Linked DNA regions of Homo sapiens: region 2 is linked to region 1. Evidence: fine-mapped expression QTL. Tissue or cell type: nucleus accumbens. Region 1 holds a variant in brackets; the other region holds the start of a gene. All regions are shown on one strand. Distances are from middle to middle.

Region 1 (8,104 bases):
TTAGGACAAGATACAAGCAGAGACAGCTTCATGGGTATTGTAAACTCAATGTTTGTGTCCCGACAAAATTCAGCTGTTGGAACCTAACCCCAAGGTGATGGTATTTGTAATACGGGAGCTAAAAAGAAATTATTGAGGCAGACAGTGAGGGTAAGAGAGTCCTCAGTAAGGTTTCCTATTAATAAAGAGCAGCCCCCAAATAATTTCTTTTCTAACAGAAAGCAGCCTGAAACATCAAGCTGCAAGCATAGATAAACAAGCTAAAATCTTGCATCAGCTGTGCCAATAGAAAACGGATGCCTGGGAGCCGGGTATATTCAACATGGAGGTTCCCTCTTCCCTTTTCTTTGTCCCCACATGTGCAGTAAAAAAGCAGACAACATGGCCCCGGCCAGGCAGAGACCCTACCTACGTAATAAAAGATTAGGGTGGGATGGCCAGCTTCTTTGGGGGCTATGCAAACGTCATACCTGGTCCGACTAATCTCTCAGGCCCTATGTAAATCAGACAGCACCTCCTCAAGCTTGTCTATAAAAGCCCCATGCATTTCACCACAAAACCAGGGGTCCCACTCGGGAACCCCTCTCTTCTCTGTGCAAAAGAGAGAACTATTCTCTTTTCTCTTTCTTTTGCTTATTAAGCCTTCACTCTTTTTTTTTTTTTTTTTTTTGAGATGGAGTCTGGCTCTGTCATTCAGGCTGGAGTGCAGTGGCACGATTTCGGCTCACTTCAACCTCCGCCTCCCAGGTGCAAGCAATTCTCCTGCCTCAGCCTCCCAAGTAGCTGGGATGACAGGCACCCACCACTGCGCCCAGCTAATTTTTATATTTTTAGTAGAGATGGGGTTTCACCGTGTTGGTCAGGCTGGTTTCGAACTCCTGATCTCAGGTGATCCGCCCCCCACTCGGTCTCCCAAAGTCCTGAGATTACAGGCGTGAGCCACTGCGCCCGGCCCAGTCTCTTTCACTATGTAAGGACACAGCAAGAAGGTGCCAGCTATGAACCAGGAAAAAAGCCCTCAGCAGACACTGAATCTACCAGTGCTTTGGTCTTGGACTTCCAGCCTCCAGAACCATGAGAAATAACTATGTGTTGTCTGTAAGCTGCCAGGTCTTTGGTATGTTGATAGCAGCCTGGATGGACTAAGACACTCTCTCCTTCCCTCTCATGCCCTGGACCCTCATCAGGGCCAGAAGTGGTTGGGGTGATGGCCCAAGCAGACTTTAAAAAGCACTGGCCTAGCACAAGGGTTGGCACGCTAGAGCCCACAGCTTGTTTTTGCAAATAAAATTTTTTGTTTTTAAAACAACTTTCTGGGCTGGGCACGGTGGCTCACGCCTGTAATCCCAGCACTATGGGAAGCCGAGGCAGGCGGATGACTTGAGGTCAGGAGCTCAAGACCAGCCTGGCCAACATGGTGAAACCCCATCTCTACTAAAAATACAAAAAAATTAGCCTGGTGTGATGGCAGAAGCTTGTAATCCCAGCTACTCAGGAGGCTGAGACAGGAGAATCATTTGAACCTGCGGGGAGAGGTTGCAGCGAGCTGAGATCACGCCACTGCACTCTGGCGCCTGGGCGACAGAGCAAGACTCCATCAAAAAAAAAAAAACTTTCTATAGATACATAATATTTATGCATATTTATGACATACATGTGATAGTTTGATACATGCACAGAATGTATAATACTCAAATTAGGGTATTTAGGATATTCACCACCTCAAACATTTATCTTTTTTTTTATCTTTTCGAGACAGAGTCTCTCTCTGTCGCCCAGGCTGGAGTACAGTGGTGTGATCTTGGCTCACTGCAACCTCTGCCTCCCGAGTTCAAGCAATTCTTCTGCCTCAGCCTCCCAAGTGGCTGGGATTACAGGTGTGCGCCACCACACCCAGCTAATTTTTGTATTTTTAGTGGAGATGGGGTTTCACCTTGTTGGCCAGGCTGGTCTTGAACTCCTGACCTCAGGTGATCCACCCATCTTGGCCTCTCAAAGTGTTGGGATTACAGGAGTGAGCCACTGCACCTGGCTCATTTATCGTTTGTGTTGGGAATGTTTCAAATCTTCTCTTCTAGCTATTTTGAAATATACAATATATTGCTGTTAACTATAGTCACCCTTCTGTGCTATTGAACACTTGAACTTATTCCTTCTATCCAACTGTGTTTGTGCCCATTAACTATCCCACCCCTTCTAGCCTTTGATAACTGACTCTCTCTTTACCTTCATGAGATCTACTTTTTTAGCTCCTACATGAGTGAGAACATGAAGTTGTAAATAAAGTTTTATTCTAACACCGCCACACCTACTTGTTTACATATCAGCGATGGCTGCTTTCATGGTACAACAGCAGAGTGGGGTAGTCTCAGCAGAGATCCTACAGCCCACAAAGCTGGACGTGTTACTCTCTGGTCCTTTTGTTTTCTGCCCTCTGGTCTAGGAGTTTGCAGCTCTGGGCGTTTTTTGTTTTTTTTTTTTTTTTTTTTTGAGATGGAGTCTCACTCCATTGCCCAGGCTGGAATTCAATGGCGCCATCTCAGCTCACTGCAATCTCTGCCTCCTGGGTTCAAGCGATTCTTCTGCCTCAGTCTCCCAAGTAGCGGGGATTACAGGCGCCTGCCACCACGTCCAACTAATTTTTTATTTTTAGTAGAGATGGGATTTCACCATGTTGGTCAGGCTGGTCTTGAACTCTGACCTCAGATGATCCACCCACCTCGGCCTCCCAAAGTGCTGGGATGACAGGCGTGAGCCCGGCCGTTTTCTTTTTTGCTTGTTGTGCTTCCTGGAGATGCTCAGTAATTCTTACATTCTTTCCTGGATAGCTGGTCAATCATTATTTATTATTTCCTTGAATTGTTCTAGGAGGAAATGTGGGGTAGAAAGAGTATGGTGGGGTTCTTGGGCATGAATAATCCATAAATAAGTCAGATTTCTTTTTAAGACGAGAAACTTAATTTTATTGATATGGACGAAGAGCAAGGAAACACAGTATCTGCATCTCCAGATTTCCGATAACCTTGGCCAGCACGATCCCCCCTCCTTTAGTGGCCAGGGCTGTCTTCTTGCTACACTTTCAGTGCCGCATATTCATGAGATCCTGGGGGCTCCTGGGTGGTGTCTGAAGCTGCCTCAGACAGGGCGCTGGTGCTTAGCTCAGCATAGGTCACTCCTTGGGGGTCTGCCGTCTTTGGAGAAAATAGATGAATATTAGAACTGAGTGTTCAATATGGCAGCCACTAGCCACACATGGCTATTGACATTTAAGTTAATTACAATTAAATTTAATTTAAAACCCAGGTCCTCGGTCACACCAGATGCATTTCTTTTTCTTTTCTGTTTTTATAACCCTTTATGCCTGTGACATCAATGGATCTGCGTAAGCCTTTTTTCATTTTTTTTAAATTTTTATTTATTTATTTATTTTGGGACAGAGTCTGGCTCTGTCGCCCAGGCTGGAGTGCGGTGGCGTGATCTCGGCTCACTGCAACCTCCGCCTCCCGGGTTCAAGCCATTCTCCTGGCTCAGCCTCCTGAGTAGCTGGGATTACAGGCGCCCACTACCACGCCC[A/G]GCTAATTTTTTGTATCTTTAGTAGAGATGGGGTTTCACCATGTTAACCAGGATGGTCTCGATCTCCTGACCTCATGATCCGCCCGCCTCGGCCTCCCAAAGTGCTGGGATTACAGGCGTGAGCCACCGCGCCCGGCCCATGCATAAGCCTTTTAAATGGAGATTTTGGTTCCCATTAGGGGAGTTTCGTGACTTGTCTAAGACCACATGCGTGATAAACAGTATACATTTCTGTATGGGCTTAACCAGGAGGCACACACGACCAGCCCATTGTGGTGAGGGAGCTCTTGTGGGACTCCTAAGCGGGAGGACTCACCGAGAGAGATACCCTTTCCATATTGGATAAATCTGCCTCTGAGTGAGAAAGGAAAAAAAAAAATCAGTTCTCAGCTGCAGAAGTCAGAACTTAGTCTTTCTATCCGGTGATTCCCTTAAACTTCCCCTGTCCCTTACCGGCAGCCTCCTGCTCCGGAAGTTTGGAATGGCTGGTTCTGAAAGAGAGAGACACACGTGAAAGGATGGGATGTGAAGATTTCGGGGAGAGGGTGAGGGCAATGGAGGGGAGAGGAAGGGAGAAGAAGGGAGAGGAGGAAGGTCACAGAATGGGCTGGGGTGGGGGCTCAGGGTGCCAATCCCGGATGTGCCAATGGGTTCCCTTGAGAATGACATGGGAATAAGTGGAGCATGAGCTATGCCAAGCATCTACCTCTTGGTGGATTCCTCAGATGATGAACCTACAAAAAATGCAGGAGGAATTTACCTACCGAGAAAATCCTTCACTCCCCCTCTCTCCCTTTGCGTTCTCTGAGCTCACTGTGCTGGCTGCATCTGTAGATGATGAAGACTGAGAGGAAGAGGAGAAGGATGGAGATGCAGCTGAAGATGGCGACAAAGATGGTTCTGGTGTCTGGAGGGGGAAGAGCAGGTCAGGGAATCAGCCTGGCTCCTGAAATCCACTGATAGGGGCGAGCCGAAAAGCTAAGAGAAGCCAGACAGATGGCCTGGCTTCCAAGCCTGGATCTCCCACCTCGGAGCTGGAACTTCCTATTGCTTTGGGGAATTTCCTTAATCTTCTCCAAGCTTCTGTTTCCCCATCTGTAAAGTGAGGATAGCAGCAGTAGCTACTTTATTGGATGGTGGGTCAGTACCTATAGAAAGGGCTGGAACAGTGCTTGGCGCATAGGAAATTCCAAAAATTCCCAGGGAATGTTTGGTGCATAGCAATGATATTGATCATTTATTGTGAGCCAGCTCTGTTCCAGGTGCTCCATATATATATATACGTGTGTGTGTGTGTATATATATATATAAATGTATATATATGTGTGTGTATATATAAATGTGTATATATATATATATATATATATATATATATACATATATATATATATATACACACTTTTTTTTTTTTGAGATGGAGTCGTGTTCTGTCACCCAGGCTGGAGTGTGATCCTGGCTCACTGCAACCTCCACCTCCCTGGTTCAAACAATTCTCCTGACTCAGCCTCCTGAGTAGTTGGGATTACAGGCGTGAGCCACCACATCTGTCTGTGTAATCACTGTCTGAAATCCACTGATGGGGTGAGTAGAAAAGCTAAGAGAAGCCAGACAGATGGCCTGGCTTCCAAGCCTGGATCTCCCACCTTGGAGCTGGAACTTCCTTGGAGCTGGACATTTCGACCAATAGACTTTGAGTAAAGCAGATGACCCACTGTCATAGGGGTGGGCCTCATCCAATCAGTTGAAGACTTTAAGACTTTAAGAGAAAAGACTGAGGTCCCCCAAGGTGGAAGGAATTCTGCCTCCAGACTCAAGCTGCAATATCAAGTCTCCCCTGGATCCCCTGCCTGCCTGCCCTGCAGATTTCAGACTTGCCAGCTCCCCACAATCACGTGAACCAATCCATTAAAATCAATCTCTCTCTCCATATATGTATATACATGTATATGTTCTCTTTTTTTTTTTTGAGACAAAGTCTCACTCTTATCGTCCAGGCTGGAGTGCAATAGTGCAATCTTGGCTCACTGCAAGCTCCGCCTCCCGGGTTCAAGCAATTCTCCTGCCTTAGCCTCCTGAGTAGCTGGGATTACAGGTGCCCACCATCACGCCCGGCTAATTTTTGTATTTTTAGTAGAGACGGGGTTTCGCCATGTTGGCCACGCTGGTCTTGAACTACTGACCTCAGGCAATCTGCCTGCCTCGGCCTCCCAAAGTGCTGGGATTACAGGCGTGAGCCACCACACCCAGCTTATATCTATATGTTCTATTGGTTCTGTTTTTCTGGAAAACCCTGGCTAACACAGACATGATCTCAGCTCTTAACTTCAAACATATTTCCTTTTTCTTTTTTTAAAGGAGAGAGAGAGATGTGAAAGGACGGGATGTGAAGATTATGGGGAGAGGGTGAGGGCAATGGAGGGGAGAGGAGGGGAGAGGAGGGAGGTCACAGATGGGAGCTCAGGATGCCAATCCCAGATGTGCCAATGGGTTCCCATTGTTGCCCAGGCTAGAGTGCAGTGGTGTGATCATACTCGAATTCCTGGGCTCAAGTGGTCCTCCTCACTCGGCCTCCAGGGTAGCTGGGAGTACAGACCACCACGCCCAGCCAACTTCAAACACACTTCAATGAGCTCGTTGATGCCAGGTAATGAACAGCAGTGACACGGGCATGGAAGGCGTTTAGAGTGGGGAGGGGTGGGGCTCTCTGAAGGAGACATGATTCCCCAAGACACAGAACAAGGGATCAGCTGGGAGAATTCAGGGAGGATTCCTAATAAGAACAGGGTTAGAGCAGGGTAGAAAAGAATGACCAGTGGCCGGGCACGGTGGCTCACGCCTGTAATCCTGGCACTTTGGGAGAGTGAAGTAGGTGGATCACTTGAGGTCTGGAGTTCGAGACCAGCCTGGCCAACATGGTGAAACCCTGTCTCTACTGAAAATATAAAAAATAAGCTGGGCATGGTGGCGCACGCCTGTAGTCCCAGCTACTCAGGAGGCTGAGAGAAGAGAATTGCTTGAACCTGGGAGGCGGAGGTTGCAGTGAGCCGAGATCGCATCACTGCATCATACACTCAACTGACCAAGACTCCAACTCAAAAAAGCATCCCTCTCAGGAGATAAAATTTCTACCAATTAAAAAACAAAAACAAAACAAAACAAAAAAAACTAGTTCTTGAGCAATATTGCCATGCAAGTCTACATCATAGCGTTTTAAAGTCTTAACAACAACCCTGCAAGGTAGTACAATTATTTCCCTCCCACTGGTGAAGGGCATGCATTCCCGTGTGACTCCTGGGATTACAGCAAGGGTTGTGTCCAAAGCTCACAGCGTTGAGGAAGAGAGAGCAACCTGTTACTAAAGCTAGGCGACAGAGTCCATGCAGTTCCCCCCCGTTTTTTGTTTTTCTTGGCACTTTAGATTCAAGAAACACAAGTCGTGAGACTTTAAGGAGTAAGTAGCAGAAACGTGATTAAGGAAAAAAGTTGAGCAACTATAGAAGTGAGGCCCCAGAAAGGGGCTTCACCAAGACCCCCGCTATCTTTGTTAGTGTGCTTTGAGTCTGAGAATTTTTCCTAGGTGTGCAATGATCTGTGGTCACATTACAGAGCCAAGTCTGAGATGCTTCACACGCCTGGTCCTCTGCACCAACAGAGGGTCTCCCATCCAGACGCTTCCCCTACTTGGTTCGCTATGTTTGCATTGGCATTTCTACATATCTATATATAGAGAATTACCTATCTAATTTATCTATCTCGCTAATCTATCTACCATCTGTCTAGGTATCTATTATCTATCTACCTATCTATCTTTATCTGTCTCTGTACCTACTTACCTATCATCTATCCAATCTATCCGTCCTATCTAATTATGATTTATCTATCTACCTACTTGCCTATCACCTATCCAATCTATCTATCCTATCATATGTAATTAACTATCTGTCTGTCTAATTTTTCTATCTTGTTAATCTATCACTTATCTAGGCATCTATGTATCTATCTTTATCTGTCTATCCACCTGCTTACCTGCTGTCTGTCTAATCTATCCATCCTATCATATCTAATTATCACTTATCTATCTACCGACTTACCTATCATCTAGTTACCAAATCTATCATCTATCTAATGTATCTATCAATCATAACCAGTTATCTATCATCTATCATCTATCATCTGTATGTATCTGTCTATTCACCTACTATTATCTATTTAATCTATTCTATCTAGTTATCTATCTATCTATCCACCTACTTATCTAATTTTTCTATCTTGCAACTCTATCACCTATCTAGGTATCTATGTATCTATCTGTGTATCTGTATATCTATCTATCTATCTAGCTAGCTTTATCTAGCTACCTAGTTACCTATCATCTATCTATCTAATCTATCATCTATCTAATGTATCTATCAATCATATCTAATTATCTGTCTATCTAATCATCTATCTTATCTATTATATCTAGTTATCTATCATCTAGCTAGCTAGCTAATCTATCTGTATCTATCTACCTACTTACCTATCGTCTATT
Region 2 (8,104 bases), 1.0 Mb after region 1:
TTGAGCCCAGGAGGTCAAGTCTGCTGTGAGGTAAGATTGCACCACTGGCCGGGCACGGTGGCTCATGCCTATAATCCCAGCACTTTGGGAGGCCAGGGTGGGCGGATCACAAGGTCAGGAGTTCAAGACCAGCCTGGTCAACATGGTGAAACACCATCTCTACTAAAAATACCAGAAATTAGCTGGGCATGGTGGCACGTGCCTGTAATCCTAGCTACTGGGGAGGCTGAGTCAGGAGAATCACTTGAACCCGGGAGGCGGAGGTTGCAGTGAGCCAAGATCACGCCACTACACTCCAGCCTGGGCAACAGAGCAAGACTCCATCTCGAGGAAAAAAAAAAATGATATTGCCCCATTGCACTCCAGACTGACAACAGAGCAAGACCCTGTCTCAGAAAACGAAGAGGAGGAGGAAAAAAAAAGTACTAATTATCTGAAATTCCAATTTAACCAGGCATCCAGTGTTTTATCTGGTAACCCTCATTCTTACACACACACACACACACACACACACACAAAGGCGGGATAGTTGTCATTCCCACTGTAAACATAAGGAAACTGGGCAGAGGCCAAGCAACCTTGTGTAGCTCACATAGCAAGAAGTGGGTGAACCCAGCTCATGTCTTGACTCTGAGCTCAGAGAGTGACAACTTGTCACCAGCGCCCCCATAGCCACCACCCTTTGTCCACCCCAGGCTCCCTCTGCACCCCAACGCAAGCTCCGGCCGCTTCTCTGTCCCCCTCCTCCTGCCGCATCACAGCCCACCTCAGCCTCTTTGTAGGTTTCCATGCGACGCTGTACCATGGCTGGGAGTCTTCCAGGCGCCGTGCTGAGCGCCTTCTGTGCATGGACTCCAAGTCGCCATAATCGTACGGGTTACCCACCATTATCAGTCCCCTCTTATACATCAGGCTAGTGAGACAGTATCTTATCCACAGTCCTACAGCTGGCAGGAGTAGATTCAAACCCTAGCAGCACCAATTAGTGGTAAAGAGTGTGGACTTGGGAACTTACAGGAGTAGAGAGCACAGTGGTGGTTACCGGGGCGGTGGGGTAAGGTTTGGGGAGATGTTGGTCAGAGGAGGACAGTTTCAGTTGGACAAGAGGAGTATGTCTTGGAGATCTACTGCACATCATGGTGACTGTAGTTAATAACAACATATTGTACACTTGCATATCACCGATAGTAGATTTTAAATGTTCTCACCGGCCGGGCGCGCTGGCTCACACCTGTAATCCCATTTTGGGAGGCCAAGGTGGGCGGATCACCTGAAGTCAGGAGTTCGAGAGCAGCCTGACCAACATGGTGAAACCCTGTCTCTACTAAAAATACAAAAATTAGCGGGGCGTAGTGGCAGGAGCCTGTAATCCCAGCTACTTGGGAGGCTGAGGCAGGAGAATCGCTTGAACCTGGGAGGTGGAGGTTGCAGTGAGCCAACGTCATGCCACTGCGCTCCAGTCTGGGCAACAGAGTGAGACTCCATGTCAAAAAATAAAAATAAATAAAAATAAATGAGCGTGGAATACTACTCAGCCATTAAAAGGAGTGAAATAATGTCTTTTGGCCAGGCACAGTGGCTCACATCTGTAATGCCAGCACTCTGGGAGGCCGAGGTGGGTGGATCACGAGGTCAAGAGATCAAGACCATCCTGCCCAACATGGTGAAACCCCATCTCTACTAAAAATACAAAAATTAGCCGGGCATGGTGGCGGGTGCCTGTAGTCCCAGCTACTCGGGAGGCTGAGGCAGGAGAATCACTTAAACCCGGGAGGTGGAGTTTGCAGTAAGCCGAGATCACACCACTGCACTCCAGCCTTGGTGAGAGAGCGAGATTCCGTCTTTAAAAAAAAAAAAAAAAAGTCTTTTGCAGCAACTTGGATGGAGCTGGAAGGCATTATTCTAAGTAAAGTAATACAGGAGTGGAAAACAAAAATCTGTATATTCTCACTTATAAGTGAGAGCTAAGCTGTGGGTATGCAAAGGCATGCAGAGTGATGTAATGGACTTCAGAGACTCAGAAGGGAAGGGCAGAAGTGGGGCAGGGATGAAAAACTACACATTAGGTACAAGGTACACTAGTCAGGTGACAGGTGCACTAAAATCTCAGAATTCACCAGAATATAATTCATCCATGTAACCAAGAACCACTTGTATCCCAAAAGCTACTGAAGCAACAAGCCAGATGCAGTAACCTGTACAGGCCACACCTGTAACCCCAACACTTTGGGAGGCCGAGGTGGGTGGATCGCTTGAGCCCAGGAGTTCAAGACCAGCCTGGGCAACATAGCGGACCCCCGTAACTAAAAAAATTACAAAAACAAGCCAGGCATGATGGTGTACAACTGTAGTTCCAGATACTCAGGAGGCTGATGGGGAGGCACTGGTTGAGCCTGGGAGGTTGAGGCTGCAGTGAGCCATGATCATGCCACTGCCCTCCTGCCTGGGTGACAGAAGTGAGGCCCTATCTCAAATAAAATTAAATAAATAAAAGTTAAAACAGGCTGGGTGCGGTGGCTCACGCCTGTAATCCCAGCACTTTGGGAGGCCGAGGCGGGTGGAACCTGAAGTAAGGAGCTTGAGACCAGCCTGGCCAACATGGTGAAACCCCGCCCCTACTAAAAATACAATAATTAGCCAGACCTGGTGGCAGATGCCTGTAATCCCAACTATTCGGGAGGCTGAGGCAGGAGAATCACTTGGACCCGGGAGGCAGAGTTTGCAGTGAGCTGAGATCATGCCATTGCATTCCAGCCTGAGCGACCGACTGAGCGAGACTCCATCTCAAAAAACAAACAAAAAGAAAAAAAGAATACATCCATGGATGGATAATGAATGAGAGGTTGTTTATATTCACAGTTAACCCTCTCATCTCCAGTAATGCAACCATCTTCTTCCTGCTTAGCCTTTTGGAGATGCTGTCCCTTTAGTGGTCAAATTCTGAAGAAATCAGGAAATAATGCATTCGACATGCCCAGCACAAGTGAAGATCAGGCAGCAGAAATGCATTCGACCTGCCACCCATCCATCAGGAGACTATTTACTCCACTACTGTAGGGGATACTGACAAATTAAATCCATACCTAGTCCAGATATCAATTCCACAATTTTTTTTTTTTTTTTTTTGAGACGGAGTTTCGCTCTTGTTGCCCAGGCCAGAGTGCAATGGTGTGATCTTGGCTCACCGCAACCTCCACCTCCCAGGTTCAAGCGATTCTCCTGCCTTAGCCTCCAGAGTAGCTGGGATTACAGGCATGTGCCACCACACCCGGCTAATTTTGTATTTTTAGTAGAGATGGGGTTTCTCCATGTTGGTCAGGCTGGTCTCAAACTCCCGACCTCAGATGGCCCACCCGCCTCGGCCTCCCAAAGTGTGTAAGCCATGGCACTCAGCCTTTTTTTTTTTTTTTTTTTTTTTTTTTGAGATGGAGGCTCTCTCTGTTGCCCAGGCTGGAGTGCAATGCCTGACCTCAGCTCACTGCAACTTCTGCCTCCCAGTTTCAAGCAATTCTCCCACCTCAGCCTCCCACGTAGCTGGGATTACAAGCACCCGCCATCACGCCCGGCTAATTTTTGTAGAGATGGGGTTTCACCATGTTGACCAGGCTGGTCTTGAACTCCTGACCTCAGGTGATCCACCCACCTCGGCCTCCCAAGGTTGAGATTACAGGCGTGAGCCACTGTGCCTGGCCCACATTTTTTAAAAAAGGGGCAACTGCAGTGTAGTAGAACAAAGTTGTGACCAATGCTAGGATACTCTGTTCATTTCCTGACCCAGCCATGAATACACTGGAATAACTCATGCAAAATGCCAGCTCGCTGGCCCCCCGTTTCCCCACCCAACAAATGAAGGGGCTCTTACAGGTTCCTTTTTGTCCTGAAATTCATCACCAATGCAAATTTCTTAAAAATCCTTTGTCTGGCAGTCCATGCCTGTCCTTCAGCATTTCCCAGATCTGACCCTCAGGACTCACCAAGACAGAAGAGGGCGGTCGGGGATGGAGACATGGTTCCTCAGCCCTGTCCTGAGCTCTGTGGCCAGGGAGGGAAGTGGTGGGAGCCTGGGGCACAGGCTCAGGATGTGATGAGGATGAAGAATGCTCTCCTCCCTTCCTCCACCAGCCCCGGCCTTTCCTAATTGAGACTCATCGAGCCGTAGCCGGCTCCTCAGTACAGTGACTTGCACACAAGCTCCAAGGAGCCGCGCTTATCTCCTCTGGCCAGCCTGGCGTTGCACCGTTTGTCCGCCTGCTGGGGCCTGGTCTGTGTTCCCGTGCTCCCATAAACTCCCTGATGTCACTAGGAAAATACGCATCAAAACCACAGTGAGATATGACTTCACACCTTCTGGAATGGCTGTATTTTTTTTTTTTCTTTTGAGACAAAGTCTCGTTCTTTTTGCCCAGGTTGGAGTGCAGTGGCGCCATCTCGGCCCACTACAACCTCCACCTCCCAGGTTCAAGCGATTCTCCTGCCTCAGCCTCCCAAGTGGCTGGGATTATAGGTATGTACCACACCAGGCTAATTTTTGTATTTTTAGTAGAGATGGGGTTTCACTGTGTTGGCCAGGCTGGTCTTGAACTCCTGACCTCAGTTGATCCACCTGCCTCGGTCTCCCAAAGTGCTGGGATTACAGGCATGAGCCACTGCACCCGACCGGCTATAATTTTTTTTAATGGAAAACAGCAGATATTGGTGAGTATGCAGAGAAATTGAACTGCGCGTGCATTGCTGGCAGGGACGTAACATGGCGCCCCTGCTGTGGAAAACAGTTCCAGCAGCTCCTCCAGAAGTTAAACGTGGGATTGCCATAAAATCCAGCAATTCCACTTCGGGGTACACACCTAAAAGAACTGAAAACAGGGTCTCTAACATATTTGTACACAGTGTTCATAGCAGCTTTATTCACAATAGCCAAAAGGTGAAACCACCCACATGTCCATCAACAACAATGGATAAACAACATGTGGTATATACACACAAGGTAATATCAACCAGCCTTAACTAAAAGAATAAAAATCAGCCAGGCACAGTGGCTCACGCCTGTAATCCCAGCACTTTGGGAGGCCGAGGCGGGCGGATCACCTGAGGTCAGGAGTCCGAGACCAGCCTGGTTAACATGGTGAAACCCCATCTCTACTAAAAATACAAAAATTAGCTGGGCGTTAAATTAGCCGGGCATGGTGGCAGGTGCCTGTAATCCCAGCTACTTGGGAGACGGAGGCATGAGAATCGCTTGAACCTGGGAGGCAGAGATTGCGGTAAGCCGAGATCGCACCACTGCACTCCAGCCTGGGCGGCAGAGTGAGACTGTCTCAAAAATAAAAATAAGGCCGGGCGTGGTGGCCCATGCCTGTAATCCTAGTACTTTAGGAGGCTGAGGCAGGCAGATTGCCTGAGCTCAGCAGTTCAAGACCAGCCTGGGCAACACAGTAAAACCCCCAAAAAATACAAAAAAAAAATAGCCGGGCATGGCGGCAGGCACCTGTAGTCCCAGCTACTCCGGAGGCTGAGACAGGAGAATGGCTTGAACCCGGGACGCGGAAGTTGCGGTGAGCCGAGATCGCGCCATTGCACTCCAGCCTGGGTGACAGAGCGAGATTCTGTCTCCAAAAAATAAAAAATATTATAAAAGAATAAATTCAGATACATGCTACAACGTGATGGACCTTGAAGACATTATGCTAAAGGAAATATTCCGGACTTGACAGATAAATACTGCATTGTGCCGCTTATCTGAGGTATCGAGAGGAGTCAAATTCATAGAGACAGGGATTAGAATGGTGGTTGCCAAGGCCTGGGAAAAGTGGGGAGTTACTATTTAATAGGGAGCGCTTAGGTTGAAGATGATGACAAAGTCTGGGGGATCCATAGTGGTGATGGTTACACAACACTGTAAATGTATTTATATTTAATGCCATTGACTGTTTTTTGTTTTTTGGTTTTTTGAGACGGAGTCTCACTCTGTCGCCGAGGCTGGAGTGCAGTGGCGCGATCTTGGCTCACCGCAACCTCCGCCTCCCAGGTTCAAGCGATTCTCCTGCCTCAGCCTCCTGAGTAGCTGGGACTACAGGTGCGTGCCACCATGCCTAGTTGATTTTTTGTATTTTTAGTAGAGACGGGGTTTCACCGTGTTAGCCAGGATGGTCTCGATCTCCTGACCTTGTGATTTGGCCTCCCAAAGTGCTGGGAATACAGGCATGAGCCACCGCGCCCGGCCAGTGCCGTTGACTTGTATGTGCACTTACAGGTGGTTAAAATGAGAACTATCAGGGTGTTGATATCTAAAAACCTCCCTGCCATCATCTTCCCTACATCTCTCATTCAGTGACCATGGTTGAATGCCTGCCACCTTTCAAATATTATGTCAGGCACTCAGTATTGGCAGTTTTATCCATTATAAATGCTTTAAGCTGCATAGAATTTTAAACGTGTTAATAAAAGTAGTTATAAATCTTTAATACATAAGCTGGCTTTAAAATTATTGGTAAAATAAGATTAGAAATGTCTTAAGAATTGTTGGCGTTTTTGTTTGCACTTATTGAACGAGTGGTTTCATGCTTATCCCTGCAGAATACTATGAGATTTGTCATAAGGGTTATAAAACTATAAACCCGGCTGGGCGTGGTGGCTCACGCCTGTAATCCCAACACTCTGGGAGGCCGAGGCAGGCAGATCACCTGAGGTCGGGAGTTTGAGACCAGCCTGACCAACATGGAGAAACGCCATCTCTACTAAAAATACAAAATTAGCTGGGTGTGGTGGCGCATGCCTGTAATCCCAGATACTCAGGAGGCTGAGGCAGGAGAATCGCTTGAACCCGGGAGGCAGAAGTTGCAGTGAGCCGAGATTGCGCCACTGCACTCCAGCCTGGGCAACAAGAGTGAAACTCCATCTAAAATAAATAAAAATAAAACATTTGTTTTTTGTAGAGTTGGGGTTTCACTATGTTGCCCAGGCTGGTCTTGAACTCCTCCTGGGCTCAAGCAATCCACCGACCTCAGCCTCCCAAAGTGCTGGGATTACAAGTGTGAGCCACTGTGCCTGGCCCTATTGGGTCCTTTTAAAAGATACATAAAAAATCAAATGCAACAGTGAAGTCAATCACCCGATGGCAGAAATTGGGGTGCTCCTGGCATGTGGTCGGTCGAAGCCAAGGACACTGCTCAGCATTCTGCAGTGCACAGGACGGCCCCGCCCAGGCGGAGAATGATCCGGTGACACATATAGGTGGGAAGGATGCACGAATGATGGCGTTTAGGAAGAATATTATCACTTCTTTCCCGTAAGAGCAACTTAGAGCAAGAAAATGGTATTATTCTTAGGGCCTTCTCTCTTATGGAGGCTCCAAGCCAGGGTTGCCATGGCAGAAGATGCTGGGCTTGCTTTTTCCTTGAGAGAACTGTACTCAAGATGATGTAACTGTCACCCCGGGTGCCACTTGGGTGCTTTGGAGAAGCGCTCAGACGCGACACGCCGTGACGACTCCGCGGCAGGCAGCCGGACCTGTCCTCTGGCGTGCGGTTCACGGGCTGTGTTTATCCCCCTGGTTCCTTCACAGCCACCTTGGGAAATACGTTGCCTCTGAATCACGCCAGGCAGGCTCTCACTGTGTGTGCTGCGGGGCTGGAAATCAGGGTGACACTCCGCTACCGAACAGCCTGACTAGGAAGCCAGAAAGACGCTGCCGGCTTTAGTTTGTCCTTTGACTTTCCTTGATATGAATGAAGATAGAGCACTTCCACACTGCACAACAGGAAAAGCCCAGAACGCTTCCTGGAGATAGCGAGGGGGTGATGCAGCGGACAGCTATGGCTGATGACCCCCTCACCTCTGACTCCCCCTCCCTCCCTGCTTTCTGAACGCACATCCATCACCAACCATAGGTTCCTGTTTGGGGTTTGCTGGCTGGAAAAAAAAAAAAAAAAAAAAGGAAAGCTGGCTTTCTAGTAAAAACCACTTCCTTTGCTCATTTATCAAACTCAAACGCTAGGAGGGCCACCTAACATCCTCCGTCCCACGCAATGGGGTGTTTCTGGAGCACTCCGGTTTATCAGGGACCCTGTCAGTTGCCATCGCACATGTATATGGGGCCAGCCCCTGT

Evidence for each region. PIP is the estimated chance that this variant, and not a neighbour inherited with it, causes the effect.
Region 2: it holds the start of GP6, and the variant in region 1 is fine-mapped to the expression of GP6 in nucleus accumbens (GTEx, PIP 0.99).

Annotation. Positions count from the first base shown.
Region 1 is chr19:54,037,890-54,045,993 of GRCh38, forward strand. VSTM1 (V-set and transmembrane domain containing 1) reads right to left here. Exons shown (of 9, transcript NM_198481.4): 5 at 4,388-4,480; 6 at 4,280-4,307; 7 at 4,027-4,064; 8 at 3,890-3,927; 9 at 2,936-3,191. The coding sequence ends at 3,072. Among named protein-coding and RNA genes, the nearest start is that of VSTM1, 22 kb to the right of the region's middle. The variant A/G (reference allele first, on the strand shown) is at 3,574.
Region 2 is chr19:55,034,229-55,042,332 of GRCh38, forward strand. GP6 (glycoprotein VI platelet) reads right to left here and starts at 4,036. Exons shown (of 8, transcript NM_016363.5): 1 at 3,975-4,036. The coding sequence starts at 4,008. All of the region lies in intron 2 of GP6-AS1 (GP6 antisense RNA 1), which reads left to right. It also overlaps a transcript of RDH13 not described here.